Linked DNA regions of Homo sapiens. Changing the gene in region 3 together with the main gene of any one other region gives a genetic interaction. Each region holds a gene or a part of one and is shown on either strand. Other genes may lie near its edges.

Region 1 (7,000 bases), on a different chromosome or scaffold from region 3:
CCACATGTTTTTATTACATTTTACAAAGTGTGCTCATACTAGGAGGCCAAATAGAGAAAAGGCCAAGAAAAGTAGATGATTGATGTGAACATCTGATCTTATTTGACCAAAGTTGACAAAATATTGATGCCACTGTTTGGTGTTTAAAAGTAAGATTAACTAAAATGCCCCAATTTAAATTTCTAAAATTTAAATCCTCTTCTTGAATTGTTTGTTTGTTGAGATCTCACATTATCAGATCTTTAGTAATTCTGGAAGAATTTGCTAAAGGGTGAAAAGAATATTTTTGTTAAATATTTGGTTAAGTAGGTGGTTTGATTTTTAATCACTATAACTAAAGGGGTTGGGACTTCCAGATTCCCAAAGGATCCTTTTAAACCAAAGTAAAACTGATTTAATAGTTTTACTATTTCACATTTTTGTGAAAAATTCACACTTACAAATTTTCTTTCTACTTGAAATAAATCCAAGGTGGTAACTGGTATCTGTCTATCAAATAAGTTAATAAAAATGTGGGAAACAGAGACACATGTTTATGACAGAAATTAAGATACAACCTTGATATTTGTTGCTGAATTTCAGTGTGTTACCCTCTCATGTAACTGAAGTTTCTTTTTAAGTAAAGGCTCACTTTTTTCTTTTTGTGAAACAGAGTTTTCATAGTAGACCTATCTTTGTGGTCAACAGGTATCTGAGGTTGATAAATGTAGAGGCTACATTTTATGATGCCAAACCACAATGACATACCATAGAACATGATAAAAATTTTTTGACAAAACTGCTTCTAGTAAAAATAAATCATGTAGAAGCACAGATGGTTGATGGTAAAATATGTAATAGCTTTCAGAACAATGCATAGATGGTGACTATATAGGAAAACAAAGGAATTTAGAGAAAAAATATATATATATACCAGGAAATGCACTCATAGGACACTTTGGAATAAAAGTGGTAGTGTTTGAGAATGATGAATGATTTGCCTATCATTTCAAATGTGCATTATTAATCTAAAAGTCATTTTAGGCATTTGGCATACAGACAGATTTTCTTCACATTTACACCAATTGGGGTTACATCTCTAATAATATGTTGTATTTTATAGTGTAAGGTAGTCTTAATGGTAAAGCTTCAGAAGAGAGCTAGCATATTTTCTTGGCATGTGACAATAATCTGCACTGTCCCCAGGGCTCCGTGGATTAGCCCATCTCCTGAATACTACACTGAATACTCCAGGCTTTAGACTGCAAGTCATTTCTTTTTCTTTGCTGCTGCTCGTAGAAAATTGGAACCTTGTGAGGCTGAGGAAATCTGTTTGACTTTTGTGTTCCATAACATGGATAAATCAGGTCCTTGGAATGATCAGCCTCTGATAGATTGTCCCAGAAGACTACAAATTAAATAAAGACTAAAGAAGTAATTGGCTGTAGAGTGGAGTGTGGATTTATTCCTAGGTCTGAATAAGGCATTGTGTGGCATCCAGAGAGAGGCAGGACAGAGGAAGCAGTGAGAGAGAAGCAATTCTAGAAAATGTGGATACCTTGCTGCTCAGTGTGGCTTATAGACAGTAGCACATGCATCCCCCGGAGCTTTGTAGAGATGCTAAAGCTCAGCTCCCACCCCAGAGCTACTGAGTCAGAATATGTGGTTTGTGTGCACGTTAAAGTTAGCGATGCTGGCTACCATCCTTGGTTCCTGGTGGCATCTTTTAGGAAGAGTTGCTACCTGGGATGGATTCTGCATTGTCCCCTTCCAGTGGCCTTAAAGATCTATAGTGTTACTTGGAATACCGAGTATTTCCCAGGTGTCCACTATTGTGATCTGACTTTAGGAAGACATAAATTGGATGAAGGAGAGATAGCAAGCAGGTAGATCAACTATAAGCCCAGTCTTCTCATGAATATTTTTCGTAGTAGTTATATAGTTTATATTGGCATCACTGGTCCCATTAAAAAGTAAGATAGCTTTTCTTCAATTAAAGGCAAGAGAATTAGCTCTTTTAATAGCTCTGTTAGTTATTATTTTATCCCCTCATAACACAGTTTAAATTCTGTAAATGACTTTAGTGACCTTGCAGCTTCTTTAAGACAAAGGGACTCTTGCAGGCAAGGGATTGAGTTTTGGGCAGGTGATGGAGAGTGACCCTCTAAACTGGGAACTGTGACGACATTCAGCTTCATGTCTTAGGAGAGAGTGAGATAGGAGCCACTAGAAGAATGAGATGATTCAGACAAGAGATTGTAGGAGATTGGCTTTATTCTGTTGACAAGATGGTAATCCGACTTATTTTTTGGTTTTTTGGTGTTGGTGGTTTAGGAAGACAGGAACTTCTCCACACCCGGTAGAGTTCAGCTGCCTTTTCATTAGTCAGCAAGCAGTTTTTCCTTTCTCAAGGCAGTCCACATCCAGCAAAACATTTGATTAACTGGAAAGCAATACCATTCTCATGCCAGTGTACAAATTACATGAAAGAGCATCATTTTTCTAGTGTCTGAGGATTGGCTGCTTATGGCCAATTTTGGCAGCAAGACGATAGGATTAAAAATAGCTTGAAGATGATCTAGTCTTAAATAATATATTTCATGATGAACTTTCCTTGGGAAAGTGCATCTTTCTGCCTACAAGAATCACATGACCCCTTTCAATAATTTATGTAGTAGAGAAAAACACACTATTTCTCATAGAGTTTTCAGTCATGTGCTGTGGTGTGATTGTTTCTGGACATTCATAAAATTTTATAGTTAACTGAATTCTCTTTTCTGTTTTGTTGCTATTTAACGTCCATTGAAAACATGGCTTTCTTTTGCGCATTCTGTTACTTTCAGCTGTACTTTCTAATAAGAATGGATTGCCCTTTTTAGCAATCTTTGATTGAACTGGTACATTTCAGATTACTTAAATGTCATCAGGCCACACAGCATACCAGGTAACAGAAAGCCATAAATTAAAAATAAAAAAAAGGCAAGCAAAATTCTTGTTGTTTTTTCTTATCTCTGTTCCCAGTCCTATTGCGCTATTTGGAGGGATGATACGCCCACTCATGAGCGAGTGTGTGGGTGCTGCATGTTAACAGTGGTTCTTCCCACCCAACATACCTCCGCACCCTTTTCTAAGGTCACTCATTGTGTCTTAGCAGTAGTTTAGCAAAGCAGTATCTCAGCAGAAGTGCATTTGTGCTAGAAAACAACACTGTCTTTGTAGTGTACAAGTAGAACGTTTTCTTTTTCCCCCAGAGATATATTGTATTTGAGATTCAAAGGTTCTGTTCAACCTTTTTAAGGTAATCTAATATCACCTTATTCAGGTATAACAGTAACTTGTCAATCTGGTCATCCTTTCTGTCAACCACATGTAGGAGACCACTCAGTGAATTTACTCCACTGTGAATTTTCTCTTTCATCCCTCTTGGTTTGGCTTAATCAACCTTAATGTTTGATGTCTAAGCAGGATTAATGATGAAAATCATCCAAGGACTGACAGTTATTCCACAGATGTGATTGCCAGTCTTACATGAGTCCTGCCTTGGGTTAGGTTGGAGGCACGGCAAGGAGAGCTTTGCTTCTGCCCTGGATAAACTCACAGGCTAGTGTTGCAGGCATCTTAATAAACTCGTAGTTATCATACAGCCTGATAAGCATGATCCTAGACTCAGAGACTTAGAGGAAAAAAGCAAATAACTATAAGTTATTTTGCATGTACTTCAGCCTTGGTCTAAGAACGTTATTTCTGACCATATGGCTGTTCATGTGTGCATTAGGCCTAATTTAAACAGGGCCAAAATGTAGATACTTTAAAAAATACTGTGTAACGTAGACATATGCTTAAGAGAACTGAAAGGCAGGGGGAGTTCCCTTGTTAAATATTAACCCACTAAGCACTATTTATGCATACTAAGAAGACTTAATAAACACCAGTCTACAATTTCTAAAGCATTTCATTAATTCTTTTTAAGTAAAAGACAATCAAGGCTCCGATTAGACTGACTGGAACAGGGTAATTTGAAGAACTATCTTTCTTAAATAACTCTTGTATGCCAAAAAATACAAGTAGGTTTTGAACCAGAGCGGGGGCTCTTCCTTTGAGCAGGGGAAAAAAAAGCTTCTGTTTTGTTTTGGTTTGAGGTTATATTACTGTTCTATTTATCAAGACACTTCTACGATGCTAGTTACAGAAATTCACAGTCCATTGTAACACTGGCATTTGCCTTCGGACTTTTTTGGGCTTGTGGTCTGTTCGTTTAAATGGAGACTGTAAAACTTTCAAAATGCCAACAAAGCTGTTTTCACTTAAAAACATATTTTTATAGATTGTCACTTGTTGTTCTTATATATGCCCAATTCTGTATATGCTATAGCACTATTTCTCTGCCCTCCATTTGCCAGACAAAAGATACACCCATCTGTCCTTCAGTGTGAATAAGGATTGAATGATTATTCCTCTCTCTTCCAAGCCATGGGACTTTCTCATAGGTGCCACCACCCCTGTGACCATCCCCTACCTGCCTTATCATTCCACCGGTGAGGGACCTCTCAGGTGTAGCTCCTTGTTAACTTCCAATTAGTGATGGGTAGGATTTACCTGAAGAAAACCGTAATGCGCTTAGATACTAGCAAAAGGGAGCAGAAGTGGGGAGTCTAATCAAAGTGAGAGGATAACCCTCACCCCAAACTTGCTGCAGGCAGCTGGGCAGGTCAAAATTCTGTGACCAGACACTATCCTTTTCCTCTAGTGATTATAAACTTTAACCTGTGCAGAGAAAAGATAGTATCTGCTGGCAAAATTTGTACTTACTTTGATTCCTCTAGTGCAAGATTATAGTGGGGTTATACCTGAGACTTCAATAAATGTTTGACTAACTAAACTAAAATAGCTTAGGGTAAGGACTACTTCCCCAAACGCCCTTTTAAACATGTGAGAAAGGGAATCTCCCTGACATACTGGTATGGCCATTTGTAGCAATATACTGAGAGTGACTTGGGTGATTTTCTGGGGCGATCAACCACATTCCATGAGCAGGTTAACTGTGGAAGACACCTGCCCTTGAGCATCGCGTTTGGGCCACATGCGTCAATGGGGAAATTTGTGTTTCCATTCTGCTTCTTGTTTTGCCTTCACAACTTCAGGGATAGAAGCGTATTCCATTTTTAGTTAATAATCAGCTCTCTGGGGCTTCCATGTAATGAGTCAGAAACTGATGACTGACTCCACTCTGCTCATTATCATGTCTCCCAAAAACAACCCGAGAACCCACTGTGTCAAGTGAAGCTTTAATTTTTCAGGGGAGGTTTTCTCCATTGAGACCAATACATCTTTTCTTGTGACAGATCCAGTTACCATATTTCCTTATTTTTAACTGTCGAAAAGACAGTTAAGCTGCAACAGAGTATGGTGAGTTTACCAATTTTAATACTTGAAGCACCAAACAAAGGATCAGTGTTGCAGGCTGTCTCTTCTTGACTTTTTCCAGCTCTCCTTAGCAGATAACCAGGATGATATTTTTTCTGCTTTACAACATGATGAATGCTATATCTCTATATTAACTCTGAAATTGAATTGCAGCCAAATATTCCTCTCAGCTGCATTAGAATTTTCTAAAAGAACATGAGACACATAAACTTAGTCTTCTTAGTTCAATGCTATATCTCAGATATATTGATATCTGATTTACAATTAAAATAGGAATAAAATTAAGTACAAATTATATCATCAGCTTTAAATATTGATTTATCTTCTTGAAAAAAAAAAAGCGAGTCCATAAAGGATGGCAGCATTGGCATTTCTGGATGTAAAATTTCAGGGCTATCTCCTAGCCATATCCTTTATGGATTCCTGCCAGCATCTTTAAAAACACACACACTGAAGACACACAGAGAGGTTTTGAGGTATTTTATAACAAAATTATAAGAACAGGGAGACAAAGCCACTTACTAAACATTAAAGTGATAGTATAAGAAGAAAATGATTTGAAGAAGTCCTAATTGAGGGAAATGAGCAATTGTCCACAAAACTTAACCCTGGGTTCCCAGGAACCGGGGTAGTGATGGTCATGGAGAGGGGTTTTAGAATCTGGTTATTTAGGAAAACATGCACACTAACTTGTTTCATTGAAAAAAACATTTATTGAGGCCCTACACCATGCAAAGCTCTATGCTAGGTGTTTTAGTTAAGCGAAAAAATGTCTAAGATAACTTTTGCCTTCAAGGAACTTACCAATCAGTAGGAGACCAAGACAAGGATACAAATCACTGTAATCCTGGACAATGTGTAGTAGACAGAGAGGCCCAACCCAGCTACAGTGGTATCTGAAGAGTTTCATGCCGGAGATAATGTTGAGACAAGTTTTAGAGAACAGGCAGGCGATACGGGGAGAGGGTCTTTCAGGTAGTGGAAACTGGAGGCGTCAAAGCAGGCATGAATGCGGGAGGTGTGTTTGGGGAATTGTGGAGAGTCTGATTTGACTGGGGCATGGAGAACTCTCCTGAGATAAATCCATAGTTTTGAGAACTTACCACTGCATACTAAGTTGTGAAACTTGTATAGACAGCCCTCCCTATCTTTGGGTTCCACATCCATGGATTCAACCAACTTTGGATCAAAAATATATGGGGTAGGGCAGGCACAGTGGCTTAGGCCTGTAATCCCAGCACTGTGGGAGCTCAAGGTGGGTGGATCACTTGAAGTCAGGAGTTCAAGTCCAGCCTGGCCAACATGGTGAAACCCTTTCTCTACTAAAAATAGAAAAATTAGCCAGGTGTGGTGGTGGGCGCCTGTAATCCCAGCTACTCGGGAGGCTGAGGCAGGAGAATTGCTTGAACCCAGGAGGCGGAGGTTGCAGTGAGCCGAGATCGTGTCACTGCACTCCAGCCTAGGGGACAGAGCGAGACTCTGTCTCAAAAAATAAATAAATAAACAAACAAATAAATAAAATAAAGTATATAGGAGGATGTGCATATGCAAGTACTACTCATTTAATATCAGGGACTTGAGCATCTTCAGATTTTGG
Region 2 (7,000 bases), on a different chromosome or scaffold from region 3:
TTGCCTGACTATTGTCTTTGGCCAGTGGTCCTAATACCAGGTGGGTTGTTGCCAGCTATAAACAAAAGGCAGTCTGGGAGAGGTGCCTGGTCTGCTAGCCAGCCTCTGCAGAAGGCTACCCCTACCAGAGAATTGCCAGCTGCCCAGTGGTGCATATGAAAGAGGTCTTAGACACAGCAACTCTGGGTAAGTTTATTAGATCTCCATGGGGTTGAAATTCCATCTTCCATCTCTTTGCTTAAGAATCATCAGAGCCTGTTGGACAACATACCACATGTCACTTCCTCTTGGTGAACAGAGGGGATGTGTGTGGAAGAGCCAGTTATATCAGAACCATTTCTGAGCACACATTCTCTCCCTAAGGCCAGGGAGTAAAGAACATTTGACTCAGGATCCTTTGAGCCTGGGTAGAAGGTACCCGCCCCCTTCCTCTCAGGTATTATCCTGTTCCAAGCTGCACCGACTGGCTACTGTGGTGGCATCGGGTAATTATCCTGGAGACTGCGGCTGGGAGATCCTTAAGGGTAGGAGTTATGGGCTATTCTACTCAGGGCTATGTTCTAAATTTAGCATCCCTACAGGAAAGGGGAAGGAAATTAGTCTTTATTGAGTACCTGTTAAGTACTAGGCACTGTGTTAGGTCCTCTACTTATGCAACCAGTGTTTCTTGAGCATCTACTGTGAAGCTAGCAGTGTACTAGGTGCTGGCCATAAGCCACGCATGGTACCTTCCTTCATGGAAACGGCATGCTGTTTCATATATTCTACAGTAACCTTCCAAGGAAGGTGAGTTTATTCCCAGTTTACACATGAAGGTCTTTGTGCCTAAGTGACTGACCCCAGGTGTCCCTCAGCCAGTTAAGTGTCTGAATGAGAATTTACACCAAGGTTGGCATAATTCTAAAGCCAACACTTTTCATCCTATCAAGTTGTCCAGGGAGTAATAAAGTGACCTAGACATGCTGGCCCAGAAAGCCAGAGATGCTGTTGGGCCAAGCAAACCATGCCTGTGAAGGTGCTCACTCTGGACTGATAACTGGCTTTGTTCAGGTAGCTATGGGAAGGATAGTTGGCAGTAGCAGGTTCCCAGAGGCGTGTTGGTAGCCTCAGATTCTGGCACTGGTAAAACTCAGACATGGCAGGTTTCAAGTGGGCATCAGGGTTTTGCCCAGAGTGAGCTGCTTATTAATTTTTTCTTTTTTTTTTTTTTTTTGAGACGGAGTCTCGCTCTTGTTGCCTAGGCTGGAGTGCAGTGGCGCGATCTCAGCTCACTGCAGCCTCTGCCTCCCGGGTTCAAGTGATTCTCCTGCCTCAGCCTCCCAAGTAGCTGGGATTACAGGCATGCGCCACCACACCTGGCTAATTTTGTATTTTTAGTAGAGATGGGGTTTCTCCATGTTGGTCAAGCTGGTTTCAAACTCCCAACCTCAGGTGATCCGCCTGCCTCAGCCTCCCAAAATGCTGGGATTACAGGCATGAACCACCGTGCCTGGCCCCGGCCAATTTTTTCATTGTTAAAACCCTCTCAGGCCCTGCCAATAGATGACAGTGGTGTGCGTGTGGGGAGAAGGTGGCCTGCCCCAGGTATCTCTACTTAGTGGTGGAGTGATGCTTCAAGGACTGAAAGTGTAGACCCTTAGCCAGATTACTGCCTGCCTGGAGTCACCTGATGAAATGCTGAACCTGTTCGGCTGTCTTGTCCATCTGTCTCTCCCGCCTGTAAAATGGAATAATGATAGCCAGCTGCCATAGCTTGACTCGAGTAAAGGATCTAGCACAAAAGCCCTTCTCCTGCCATAATTGTAGGGTGGAAACCCTTTAATGAATGGGCAGCTTCCCTCAGAGAACTGACTCTTCCCCCTAGAGTTTCTCCTTGAGAAACAAAGTCCCTGTGATACTTTCCTGGAATGTTGTATACATGACCTTCCCCGAAGGGACACAAGTGTTTCTGGTGCTTTCCAATGGGAATGTGGGAAGGGACCCAGGTGGGCCTTGCCACTTTGGGATTGCTGTCCCTGAAGAAATCCCTTAGCCTGATAGAAACGTAATTGTTGGGAGCAATGAACTGTGTTGGGGGAGAAAACATAACTTGGCCTTTCTTAAGCTGTATGGCTCAGTGGTCTGAGTTTCTGTAGATCTCTTATTGCCTAATGTGGCTTCTTCAGATGGATGTATGCTTAGTTGAAGCACCTCAGCTCCCTTTGCAGATAGTGGCAGTTCTGTGGTTTTCTTAGGGAAACCCCATTAGAAACCCCAAATGTGGAAATTTTTAGTAATCTCATTCGGGTCCCAAAATTAAGTAGAAGTGTCTCAGGGGCTCCCCCTTGAAACACCTACTTCTTCTGAGTGTACATTTGAGGTTGCTCTTAAAATTCTGTTACCATCACAGGGTTTTCCAGACTTCCTAGGAATAATTTCCCCAGTAGCCCCACAGAGCCCTTTAGCTTCTGTCGAAAATTACCCGGGTATTTTTTCAGGGGGCTCCAATGGAACCTGGAGGGTTTTCTTGACTTTTGTATGGGTGTCCCCAGATTTGTTTGGGCTGCATGAAACAGCAGTTGTTATCTCTGTCCCTTCCCCCAGCAGATATCTGTCCTGAGGCCAGTGGGCTTGAGCGTCCTCCTCTGTGTCCAGTCTCCCTGGTTTTGCCAGTGCCCTCAGCCTTCCATCATGGGGCTTTCTTGAAGCAACTGTGGTTTTGCCTGAGTTTAATGTGGATAGACATAGGGGTAATTCCCAGTGTACTGCTTTTCTACGGAAGTATAATCTCCTACTGCCTTAATTAAGCAGAGGCCCTGTCCCCACCCAACCTCCAACCTAATTCCACAGAGTCCTCCCTAAGGACTCCCTCTTTTTTCTTTGAAGGAGTCACTCTACTCCTGGATCCTCTTCTCTTCTGCCCCTCTATCCGACAGTCTGTCTTCCTTGTTCCCAGTTGGCAGACCTGAGTCAGGCAATCCCACTGGGTCTTTTTGTTTAGCCTGGGGAAGAGAAGACCCAGGAGAATATCACCAGCTTCAGATATCTGAAGGAAGAGGGACTGAGTCTTTTTTTATTGGTGTGGTACCTGGCAAAACTTGGATAAATGAAAAGAAGTTAACAGTTGGTAGAGCTTAAATTATGTGCAGAGAAGACATTTCTAACAGATTTACTCTGTCCTAGATTTAGGAGCTCCTCAGGGTGGAGGCCACATCTTGTCCATGCTTGTTTCCTCAGCACTGAGCAGAGGCCTTGGGCATAGCAGATACCTAATTGAAGAGAAACCCACTAAATTTCTGAAGAAACAGACCCTTGTCAAGCCAGAATAACAATAATGGGAGTGGCTATTTACCTAATAATTCATTCGTTGAGTCAAACAATGTTTATTGAGCTCCTACTGTGTACCATACTGGGAGTATGGCAGTAAACAAAAGTAAGCAAAACTAAGTTTCTGTCCTCATGGAGCTCACATTCCAATGAGGAGTGACAGGCAATAAATATATAATTACATGTTTATATCAGATGATTGTACATGCTATGAAGAAAATAAAGCAGGTTGGGGCATAGGGCATGTCTAGCAAGGGAGGGTGGGGCTGCAGTTTTAAAAGAGTGATCAAAGAAGGTGTAAGGGAGAAAAAAATGGCTTTCCTCTACCCTTCTAGGTCCTTTGGCTGGGCTGAGAATTAAATTGACATAGACAGATTAACTGGAGGAAAAATAATTAATTACATAGTTGTACACAGGAATCCTACAAAATATGAGGCTCAAAGAAGGGTCAGATAATTGAAGCTTATATAGCATCCTGAGCTACAGAAAAGAATATGGGGCTTGGGACTTCTGTTAGGGGCTTGAGTGGCAGCAACCCAAGTTATGGCAGGGTGAGGGAAAGAATTGGTGGTGGCGTGTGTCTGTGGTCCCAGATACTGTTGAGGGGGTGTACTGAGGTGGGAGGATCACTTGAGCCTGGGAGGTGGAGGTTGCAGTGAGCCGAGATCAAGCCACTGCGCTCCAACCTGGGTGACAGAGCAAGACCCTGTCTCAAAAAATAAAAATAAAAAGTCTCTCTGGTAATAAAATTTGTCTGGAGCAGCCCTCTTCCTAATACAGATACCTTTACTAGTGTAGATTTCCTTTTTAGATGTGAATTTCTTTTACAAAAGGACAGCTTTTCAGAGCTACTCTTATGTCTGCAGTTTCTCAGAATAACCAGTTCAAAATATGCCAAAGAAGTATATTTTTGGGGTGGCATATTGTTTTCCTACAGTCATATTTTGGGATGGTATGTCCTGAGTCCCAACAAAAGTATTACCTAAATTTATTTGAGCCAAGCGCTAAATGAGGTAAGGAGGTGGATGATGTAGGTACCCTACAGCAAAGGGTGTTTAAAGCAGAGGGAATGGACTCAGGAGGGAGCATGCTTGACATTTTCAAGGATGAGCAAGAAGGTCAATGTGGCTGGAGAAGAAACAGCAAAGGGGAAAAGGGTAGAAGGTGGGGAGGGAATGGTTGAGGAGGAGGATGGAGAAGTAGGTGGGGGCCAGATCGCATACAGCATTACAGACCATGATGAGGATTTGGCTTTGGTGGAATGGTCTGTATTCCTTTTTTTTTTTTTTTTGAGACAGAGTCTTTCTCTGTCTCCCAGACTGGAGTGCAGTGGCACGATCTCTGCTCACTGCAAGCTGCACCTCCTGGGTTCACGCCATTCTCCTGCCTCAGCCTCCCAAGTAGCTGGGACTGCAGGTGCCCGCCACCACACCCGGCTAATTTTTGGTATTTTTAGTAGACGGGGTTTCACCATGTTAGTCAGGATGGTCTCGATCTCCTGACCTCGTGATCCGCCCGCCTCAGCCTCCTAAAGTGCTGGAATTACAGGCGTGAGCCACCGTGCCAGGCCTGGTCTGTATTCTTAAGGGTGGCAACAGGGAGCCCAGTGAAGAGGCTGGTGCAATTGCCAGGTGAAAAAGAATAGTGGCTTGGACCTAGAGGTGGAGGTGTAGTGAGACGGGGACTGGAGAATAAGACCAGGCTTGCACATGGTATATTGATGGGTCCAGCCATCCTGGAAACCATATTTTTCAACTACTTGGAGGTCCTAGAATCAAAGTTAAGTAAGATAGATGTTCTTTGGGAATAGTTCTCTCCAAATGTGATATTCTGATGAATGGTCCTCTTCCACTCCAACAGTATTTCTGTCTGAGTAAATGAAATTTGTCTGAGTTCAGTTCCCAACTCATCCGTGTCTACCTATGCAAGCTCCTTTTACCTCTCTGAATCTTGGGACAAATAATAATACCTGCCTCACAGGGGGCGATGGTAAAGACACAGTGAGGTATACCTGAGATGCATAAAGACTGGAGCCATGTTGGTATCATTATTCTTATTATCTTTCCACAGAACGCATGTCAGAGACCCATTCACGGAATCTTGAGCATCCACTCTCCTTTTTCTAAATACCATAGTGACCCATCAGCACATCTCAGAGCAGGCCCTTGCAGCATTTCTGTTGTAGTAGGAGCTCCACAGTGTTTGTGTGCAATGGTGGTGTAAGCACTGGTCTTGGAGTTGGAATCCCAGTTCTACTCTCAGTCTCACCTTGGCCAAGTCACTTCACCCCCAGTCCCCAGTTTCCCTTTATGCAAGATGGAGGGTTTGAAGTAGGCAATAAAGGAATGCTGGTTCTCTCTATCCTTAGGCCTTGTGGCGGATTCCACCATTACAGCATATTTCACATTAGTTATATTTTAAAATGGCTCTCTCCTGTTGACAGATATGTCAGCACCTTAACTAAACCCAGTGTCAAGGCAGGCTAGTTTATCACTGAGCCCACAATAGTGCTACCCTATATTTATGTAACACCTTACAGCTTCCAAAGCACTTTCAGATCCACCTTGCCTTTTTGATCCTTATAACCACCCAGAGAGGTGAGCAGGAAGGATGACATCTCCGTTTCAAAGGAGAGAAATCAGGTGAGAAAGATGAATTGACTTGCCCAAGGTTACATCAGGAGGAAGAGGCAGTTTTTGGACTTTCAAATTGGAACTTGACTACTAGCTTGCTGTGTGACCTTGGGCAAGTCTTTTAACTTGTAAATGGCTATAGTAATGCCACCTTTTTCTGAAGATTGGGTGAATTAATTCATTCTTTTAAGGCTTTCATATCATCCTAGGGCTCTTCACTCACATCATCTGGCTTCTCTTTTTTTACATATTGATTTTTGAAATTGTGGTTTTGTATAAAGAAACTGCCTTTGGGACCGTCTGCTATTTGGTTTCATCCCTGATGAGACTCTCGGGCCAAGCTTGAGCCTTACAGTGAACTCTGAGCCACACAGCTTTTTGGGCAGCCTCCAGTGCTCCCCTCGGAACTGGAGGTTTTTCTCCAGCTCTTCAGGAAATGCCATTGCGATGACTTCCATGGACTGCTTCCTGTCCCAGCCCTGCCGGCAAGAGTGTGGAAACTGGAAAGCAATGTCCCTAGAGGTCCGCCCCCCAAAAACTACTTTTTTTGGACGTGTCCCTGCCTTTCCTCTTGTCCATTACTTTCTTTGCTCCCTACCCTTTCCTCCTTCACCTGGCTTCTGCCTCCAGCTGTGATCATCCCTTCAAGATTTAGAAAATGCCTTTCTACTTGGTTCTGCCAGGCCATTACCCCCTACCCTAGGCTAGGCTGTGAGGGAGGTCAGTTAGAATTCCTGGGTTCTCTCCTTGGCTCCATCACGCATTAGCAGTTTCAGTCCTGGACTTCCCCTGGAGATGCATTAAACCTGTTGCTTGCGGTGCCCTGTGTCATCCATTAACCCTGAGTTCCCCTAGGAGATTCCACCCCACCCCTGCATAGGATGGGATTCTTAAGAGATAACTTGAGGTTTGGCACATATAAATCCTGCCTCTTGGAAATTGATGATAAAGGGTGGAGTGAAACAGAGCCTGCCTTCCCCTCCCCCAGTCACCTTTGAGGAGGAAGCTAGAAGGTTGAAAACCTTGTTGGACAATCATCTGAGGAATGGGAGCTGGCCTGG
Region 3 (7,719 bases):
ATCCTCTCACCTCAGCCTCCTGAGTAGCTTGAGACAACAGATGCATGCCACCATAACTGACTAATTTTTTAAAATTTTCTGCAGAGACAGTGTCTCCCTATGTTGCCCAGGCTGGCCTCGATCTCTTGGGCTCAAGCGATCATCCTGCCTTGGTCTTCCAAAGTGCTGGGATTACTGGTGTGAGCCACTGCACCCACAGCCTATTTATTGAGAAATGTGGAAGGCCCAGGCACTATTCTAAGTGCTCCAGCTGTTTTATCTCCCACAGTTTTGCTCAGATAGGAGTTCCAAAGCTGGAGCTGGAAGACTCATATTTTTAGAAATGTTACAGTTAATTCTGAGGTGGGTCAGATTGAGATTCATGGCTATGCATTAATGTTTAGGTGGTGACTAACCACTCAGGGTTTTAGAGACAAACAGACCTTATTCTGTCACTCACTGACTGAGCGTGGCCAAGTCTTTCAGCCTCTCTAAGCCTCAGTGTCCTCATCCATAAAATGGGACCAATCGTAGCATCCACTTCTGAGAACTGTTCAGAAGTGGAAATGAGCTAGTTTAGGTGGCTGTGTCTGGCATACGCCAATGGTTTGATAAGTATTAGCTTGTGCCTTTATTAGGCCAACTCCTTTTTGTTAGGTGACTGAGAAACCAAGGACCTTCTGCCCTTTATGCACCAGTCACTATTAGTTTAAATTTGTTGCTCTTCCATCCACATGATTCATTCCAAATTTGAAGTGTTGGAGAAAGGGAGTTAGTATGTCATAGAAAAATCTCTGTTTTTGGCTCAGCAGGACTGAGTTTGACTCCATGTAACTGTCTGAGTCTTAGTTTCCTCATCCATAACATGGGAGAACAATACCCTGAATTAGAGAATTCTGCTGCCAGAATTAGAGATAGTTCATGTCAAGGTGCAACATATAGGTAATGTGTTATTGCTGGTGTTCTGGTTATAAAATGTACAAGATGTGAAAGCAAAAGGGCAGAAAACCCTTTTTAAAAATTCATGGCTGGGCGCGCTGCCTCATGCCTGTAATCCCAGCACTCTGCCAGGCCGAGGCGGGTGGATCACCTGAGGTCGTGAGTTTGAGACCAGCCTGACCAACATGGAGAAACCCTGTCTCTACTAAAAATACAAAATTAGCCGGGCATGGTGGCGCATGCCTGTAATCCCAGCTACCCAGGAGGCTGAGGCAGGAGAATCGCTTGAACCCGGGAGGCGGAGGTTGCTGTGAGCCGAGATGGCACCATTGCACTCCAGCCTGGGCAACAAGAGCGAAACTCCGTCCCCCGAACAAAAAATTCAAATGGGAAAGAGAGGCAGATGGCAGAGAACAGGGGAGGGGCTGGGCACCGTGGCTCATGCCTGTAATCCCAGCACTTTGGGAGGCCAAGGCGGGTGGATTTCTTGAGGTCAGGAGTTCAAGACCAGTCTGACCAACATGGTGAATCCCCATCTCTATTAAAAATACAAAAATTAGCCGGGGGTGGTGGTGGGTGCCTGTAGTCCCAGCTACTCGGGAGGCTGAGGCAGGAGAATCACCTGAACTCAGGAGGTGGAGGTTGCAGTGAGTCAAGATCGCACCACTGTACTGTTGCCTGGGCAACGCACCGAGACTCCGTCTCAAAAAAAAAAAAAAAATGAGAGAACAGGGGAGGGTCTAGGGCTCAGAGCTTTGGAGAACAGACCTCAGTAGCACCAACACTCCAGGATCAATGCTACAAAGACACGGGTTACAACTAAACTGGAGAACATGGCCAAGGATGGGAACTCAGCCTGAGCAGGGCTGAGCCGAGCAGGGCTAAGCCAAGTAGGGCTGAGCCAGAACACTTCCTCCTTTTTTCTGAACAATCTACCTACATTTCAGCTACAGGGCTGGCTTTACCCAGTCCGGCGGGAGGGAGGAGAGGGCTGGTCTGTGACTTCAGTGCTGAGGTTTGATCAAGGCAAAGGGAAACTTCCTATTCCCAGACCCTTTGCAAGAAAGAATGGCATATTACTTGCCACCGACAGGGGTTATTATTACTAAATGGAGTCAGTATAAATGCTTTCCAATAAAGCATGTCCAGCGCTCGGGCTTTAGTTTGCACGTCCATGAATTGTCTGCCACATCCCTCTTCTGAATGGTTGGAAATTGGGCATCTGTTCCTTTAAACAGGAAACATTTCTTGTTCGAGTGAGTCATCTCTGTTCTGCTTTAGGAGTAAAGTTTACCCTGCAGTTCCTTCTGTGGTGAAGTTTTCTCTTTCTCTCGGAGACCAGATTCTGCCTTTCTGCTGGAGGGAAGTGTTTTCACAGGTTCTCCTCCTTTTATCTTTTGTGTTTTTTTTCAAGCCCTGCTGAATTTGCTAGTCAACTCAACAGGAAGTGAGGCCATGGAGGGAGGCAGAAGAGCCAGGGTGGTTATTGAAAGTAAAAGAAACTTCTTCCTGGGAGCCTTTCCCACCCCCTTCCCTGCTGAGCACGTGGAGTTAGGCAGGTTAGGGGACTCGGAGACTGCGATGGTGCCAGGAAAGGGTGGAGCGGGTGAGTGCCTGTTGCCAAGGTGGCCTCTTCAACAGGAAACCACAATATTTTTGTTTCTTGACTTGCTCTAGAAACAGGGCTGTGGGGGTGGGGAAGCAACTTGGATCTGCCCTTCTGAGGACACCTCTGGGTGCTGCCTGGCCCAGGTCTCCTGTGTGGTTTCTCTCTGAGCCGTTGCCTCTGACTTTGCTACTTTTTCACTCTGAGCAGTCTCCAGTTCCTCTGCTACCTTTTTGTCCTCCAAGCTTCCCTGCCGCCTCGAATGCAGATACACGGTCTCCCTCCTGTGGACCCGTTTGGAGAGTCCAGAAGACTTTATCAATCCACTTTTTTTTCTTTTTCATTTGGCCCTGGGGCCGACGGTTAAGTACTTTATTCTGTCATTCTGTCGAATCACGATGCCCTGAGGTGCACAGCCCCTTCCCCCTCTTCCGTGTCTGAAGGGTTTCCTTTTATCTCTCCACCCCCACCCTTGCCCTCCTGCCCTCTCTCTTGTTCCCCAAAGACAGTTCTCTAATGTTTTGATGTGGATTCGTGAATTTATCTGTATCTTTGCAAAATGTATTTTTCTTTTGTATGTGTACACTGTTTTTTAACTATGCGATCTCAGGCAAGTAATTCCTCTGTGCCTCTGTTATCTCATCATTAAATGATTAATAATGCCTCCAGAGGTGACTGTGAGGCTTGAAGGAGATAATACGCATACATCACTTACTACACGAGTTAGCAATTATTATTGCATATTAATACTATTGGTATTTTATTTTGCTCATTCTGTTTCTATTTCTTTTTTATTTATTTATTTTTTGAGACAAAGTCTTGCTCTGTCACCCAGGCTGCAGTGCAGTGGTGCAATCACGGCTCACTGCAGCCTCAACATCCTGGGATCAAGCAATTTTCCCATCTCAGCCTTCAGATTAGCTGGGACCACAGGCGCGTGCTACCACACCTGGCTAATTAAAAAATTTTTCTTCATAGAGATGGTGTCTCATTTTGTTGCCCAGGCTGGTCTCAAACTCCTATGCTCAAGGGATCCTCCCACCTTGGCCTCTCAAAGTGCTAGGATTACATGCATGAGCCACGGTGGCCATCCAGGCATTGATATTATGAGGCCATCTTGACCTAGCCCTCTCTGGTGAAGAGTCCTTTTCAGATACTTCGTTCAGTCTTCTCAGCTATGAGTCCCTACCCTCTGAAAGCTTATATTCTATTTGGGGAAAGACAAAAGGCAGTTTCAAAGAAGAGAGGTGTTTGATTTTCTTTTCCTACTTTTAATATCAGAAAACATTTCATCTAACTCTCAGTATGAAGGCAATATTTTGTTTACTGGTATATCCCTAGAGCCCAACATGGTGAGGGCCCCAGGATTTGCTTCTTTGATAAGATGGTAAACCCAGCTTTCAGCTAACTTCATGGTTTCCTCAGCTACACTCATATACAAGGATCACCTTTGGTAAGATGGACTTACCATCTTACCAAAGAGTTTTTGCATTTTAGAGTTTTTTCTTTTTAGATTTTTTTCATTTTAGAATTTTTTTATTTCAGAGTTTTTTCTTTTTAGAGGTTTTTCATTTTAGAGTTTTTTCTTTTTAGAGTTTTTTTTTTTTTTTAATTTTAGAGTATTTTAGGCTGCTGAGGGTGGAATCTGGTGACCTTGGGGCCACAGAGATGCTCCTTGGCTAAACCAGGGGCTTTAGCTCTGAAAGTTCACAGCCACCCTGAGAACCAAGATGAGAGGGCTCTGCAGTGTCCAATCTCAAGACCTCTCTGAGGTGCTCCATCAAGATTCATTGAATGAAAAAATTAAAGTCTTAATGATGAACCCAGAAAAATCTTTAAATCCTAAATATGAAATGAAAGTGTTCTTAGTTACAATCCAGTCCAACGTCCTTGTTTTGGAATGTGGAAATGAGGCCCCAAAGGTAAAATGGCCCATCCAAAGTCACAGCCAGGGGCCAGTGCTCAGGTGGCCAGGTGCCCTGCGTGCGGTCTCCTGGACCACCAGGCCTTTTTCCTGCAGCTTTAGAAGCTTTAGAAGGCACTCTGCTCACTCAGGGGCAAGTGGTAAGCGCTCTTTCCCCTCTAGTGTTTGTGACTCAGGAGTTTCGAAACAGGAAGTAGAGCTGGCTGGCTGTGCCCTTCCGTCCTTCATTAGACGTTTGCTCTTGTCTTAGATGCTCAGATGGTAGTGGATAGGCCTGTGACGAAGGTGCTACCATCGTGAGAGTAAGGTAAGGATTTGCCTCTTTGTTAAGGTCAGAGGGGCCTTTTGGGAGGAAGGCCTTTGATTCTGGAGTTTTCTAGGCTGCTGAGAGTGAGATCGGGTGGCCCTGGGGCCATGGAGGTGATCCTCGTATGTGAGTGTGGATGGGGAAACCATGAAGTTAGTGTAAGAGGTAGCAGTCCCTCTGAGAGCCTTGCCGAGGGCCGTGCAGTTTCCAGATCTGAAGGCCATTCTAGCTTAGACTGATGAAGTCCTAGGAGCTTCTGAAATGCTGCAAGTTTAACTACTTGTATAAAGGCCTCATCCTGATCCCAGTCAAACTTGTGAAATAATAGAAGCCAAAATTTAAATCTCTACTGACTTTGCTGCTACAGCTATCCTCCCACCAACACACATACCCACCAACATACACACTTGCCAACATAAACGCACACACACATACACACAAACACACCCATGTGGTCCTACTAATTCAATTATTTATTTTTTAAAGAAATTAAAAAAGACTGGGCGTGGTGGCTCTCGCCTGTCATCCCAGCACTTTGGGAGGTCGAGGCGGTGGTTCACCTGAGGTCGGGAGTTTGAGACCAGCTTGACCAACATGAAGAAACCCCGTCTCTACTAAAAATACAAAATTAGCCGGGCATGATGGCGCATGCCTGTAATCCCAGCTACTCGGGAGGCTGAGGCAGGAGAATCGCTTGAACCTGGGAGGTGGAAGTTGTGGTGAGCCGAGATCGTGCCACTGCACTCCAGCCTGGGCAACAAGAGCGAAACTCCGTCTCAAAAAAAAAAAAAAAAAAAAATTAAAAAGATACAGAACAGTTCAAAAAACAATATAATGGGAAGACTAGATAGACACAATCAGAGACCTGCACTTGTGGGGTTAAGAATTTACAGGTGAAGTTGCAAGTTTCATTCTGTTTGAAAATGATGGGATTATATGTTTTGCTGAGGTTTGGACACCTTTGCTGGGTTGTTTGAATGCCGTGGCTGCAGCGCCCTGTTATGGACATCATGTGCGTGCAGAATGGATGTCTGTCAGGTTCCGGGGCAGCCCGCAGTCTGAGGCAGCCAGCCTGGATTGGAGGGAGTGGCAATACTACCTGCCGGTTAGGGGTTTGGGCCTGAGAGCGAGTGGCTTTCAGGTTCTCTCAAGCTTCGGATGAGATGCAGGTTTCTGCTTCCGATGGCAAATGCATGTTTTGCTTTTTAGTTATCACTGCAAGAGCTAGGATGCTGCTAGAATATTACTGGAATGATTGTGATGAGATGGAATGTATTTACAGTTTAATTGTGACATGTAATACAGTGGTAGAATGGGACTCTGGAATGAGATGCTGGGGCCTAGATTCTAGCACTTCCTTTGTGAGGCTCTAACCCCCTCTCCTATAGTGGATTTGTTAAGAACTTCTGTTTTTGTGGCTTTGTTATTATAAAATTTTTTGAAATGTTGTTCTCTAAAAAAGTTATGATTTTATGTTTTTCTTCATGAGATTCTTTCACTGCCTTCCAGCTGCAAGTAGAATGACGTCTAAATCTTTGTGATCTGTCACTGAAGCCCTTGAGTGAGACACTTAAATCTGGCTGTGGCTCTCTCTCTTACTAGCTTATTTCCAAGCCGTGATTTTTCACAACAGAAAAATGGGGACAGTAATAGTAGTTTCTTCAGAGGCTTTTAGTGAAATGAGGTTAAAAAATATTTTTATGTTTATATGGATATATAGATTACAAACATTTATATATCATTTATTTATATGATTATTATAAACACATATTTATATTTAAATACTTTGGGGCATAAATATATAAAATAATAAATATACTTATGTAATACAAATAGACTTATATACATTTACTATTTAGCAGAGATTATATAAAATATATGTATTACATGGCAACATATTCAAATTTACATATGTTATATATACATGTGGAAAAAAAATTGGGAAAAGGCCACAAAATGTGACCAAAGAATTACTTCCAAATGGCAAGTTTTTAAGTAATTTTTATTTTCTTTTTATACTTCTCTGTACTTTCTCTATGAAACAAGTGTTACTTTTACTGTTTTTAGGAACCAAAAATACAAGTACATTGTTTAAAAAATACTAGCTTAACAAAGTTTCTAGCCCATAAGCTAGTGCAGAAAATCTAGGTCCCATAAAACAAGAACTGCCACACGATGTCTCTCCCCTTACAGTGCTGGATGGCCCGTTGTTAATGGTGTCATAAATCCTTTGCAAGTGACTGTTTTCTAGGTACTATGACTAGAGGGATGTGTAACTTAAGCAAAAAACAAAAAACAGAAAAGGCTGACTATCATCTGACAGTGTATCCTGGAACACCTAGGCCAGAGAAGAAGCCACGTTAGCATTTTCCCTTCTAAATGTCAGTTATGATTTGATGGGGAAACCACTTAAAAAGCATTGTCACGTTGTTGAAAAGGTAATGAAATGAGTGAGATGAGATGGCTATGGAGGACGGAGCTATGCGCCAATCTTATTATATCCAAATTCATGTCATCTCAGCCTTGGATTGTATTGATTTTTATTATATACTGTCAGAAAATGCTATTGAATGTGTAACAAGAGCCTCAAAAAGGTTTATTCATTTTGACACCATAATACTACTTTTAGGAAATTATTCTAAGAAAATAATTAGAGGTATTCTTAAAGATTTGCGTTTTAAAGTCATCCTAAATGTAATCAGGAACTGGCTATGTAAATTATAGCCCATCTCTAAGATTAAGTGCCTTACAGATATTAAAACCCATGCTGTAGAAGAAAAACTAAAGACAGGAAAGTACTTACAATACAAGATGTACTTACCAGTGGAAAAATCCACTTATACTACAGAAATATGATGTGTTCAAATATAAGGAAAAATGTGTATGCATAAAATATTTGGTAGGAAAGAGTAAAATATTACTGGGCATTTATATTTGGATGGTGGAATTATACATAATTTTAAT

Evidence for each region.
Region 1: of CASP8 (region 3) and BCL2, changing one suppresses a phenotype caused by changing the other (phenotypic suppression), as found in Homo sapiens cells (one study listed by BioGRID).
Region 2: of CASP8 (region 3) and BCL2L1, changing one suppresses a phenotype caused by changing the other (phenotypic suppression), as found in Homo sapiens cells (one study listed by BioGRID).

Annotation. Positions count from the first base shown.
Region 1 is NC_000018.10:63,309,770-63,316,769, reverse strand, and holds part of BCL2 (apoptosis regulator Bcl-2), read left to right. Parts: intron 1-7,000. UniProt on the Homo sapiens protein: Suppresses apoptosis in a variety of cell systems including factor-dependent lymphohematopoietic and neural cells. Regulates cell death by controlling the mitochondrial membrane permeability. Appears to function in a feedback loop system with caspases.
Region 2 is NC_000020.11:31,712,869-31,719,868, reverse strand, and holds part of BCL2L1 (bcl-2-like protein 1), read left to right. Parts: intron 1-3,024; exon of another isoform or gene 3,025-3,248; intron 3,249-7,000. UniProt on the Homo sapiens protein: Potent inhibitor of cell death. Inhibits activation of caspases. Appears to regulate cell death by blocking the voltage-dependent anion channel (VDAC) by binding to it and preventing the release of the caspase activator, CYC1, from the mitochondrial membrane.
Region 3 is NC_000002.12:201,255,859-201,263,577, forward strand, and holds the start of CASP8 (caspase-8 isoform 2 precursor), read left to right. Parts: upstream 1-4,677; 5' UTR 4,678-4,755; intron 4,756-7,719. UniProt on the Homo sapiens protein: Thiol protease that plays a key role in programmed cell death by acting as a molecular switch for apoptosis, necroptosis and pyroptosis, and is required to prevent tissue damage during embryonic development and adulthood.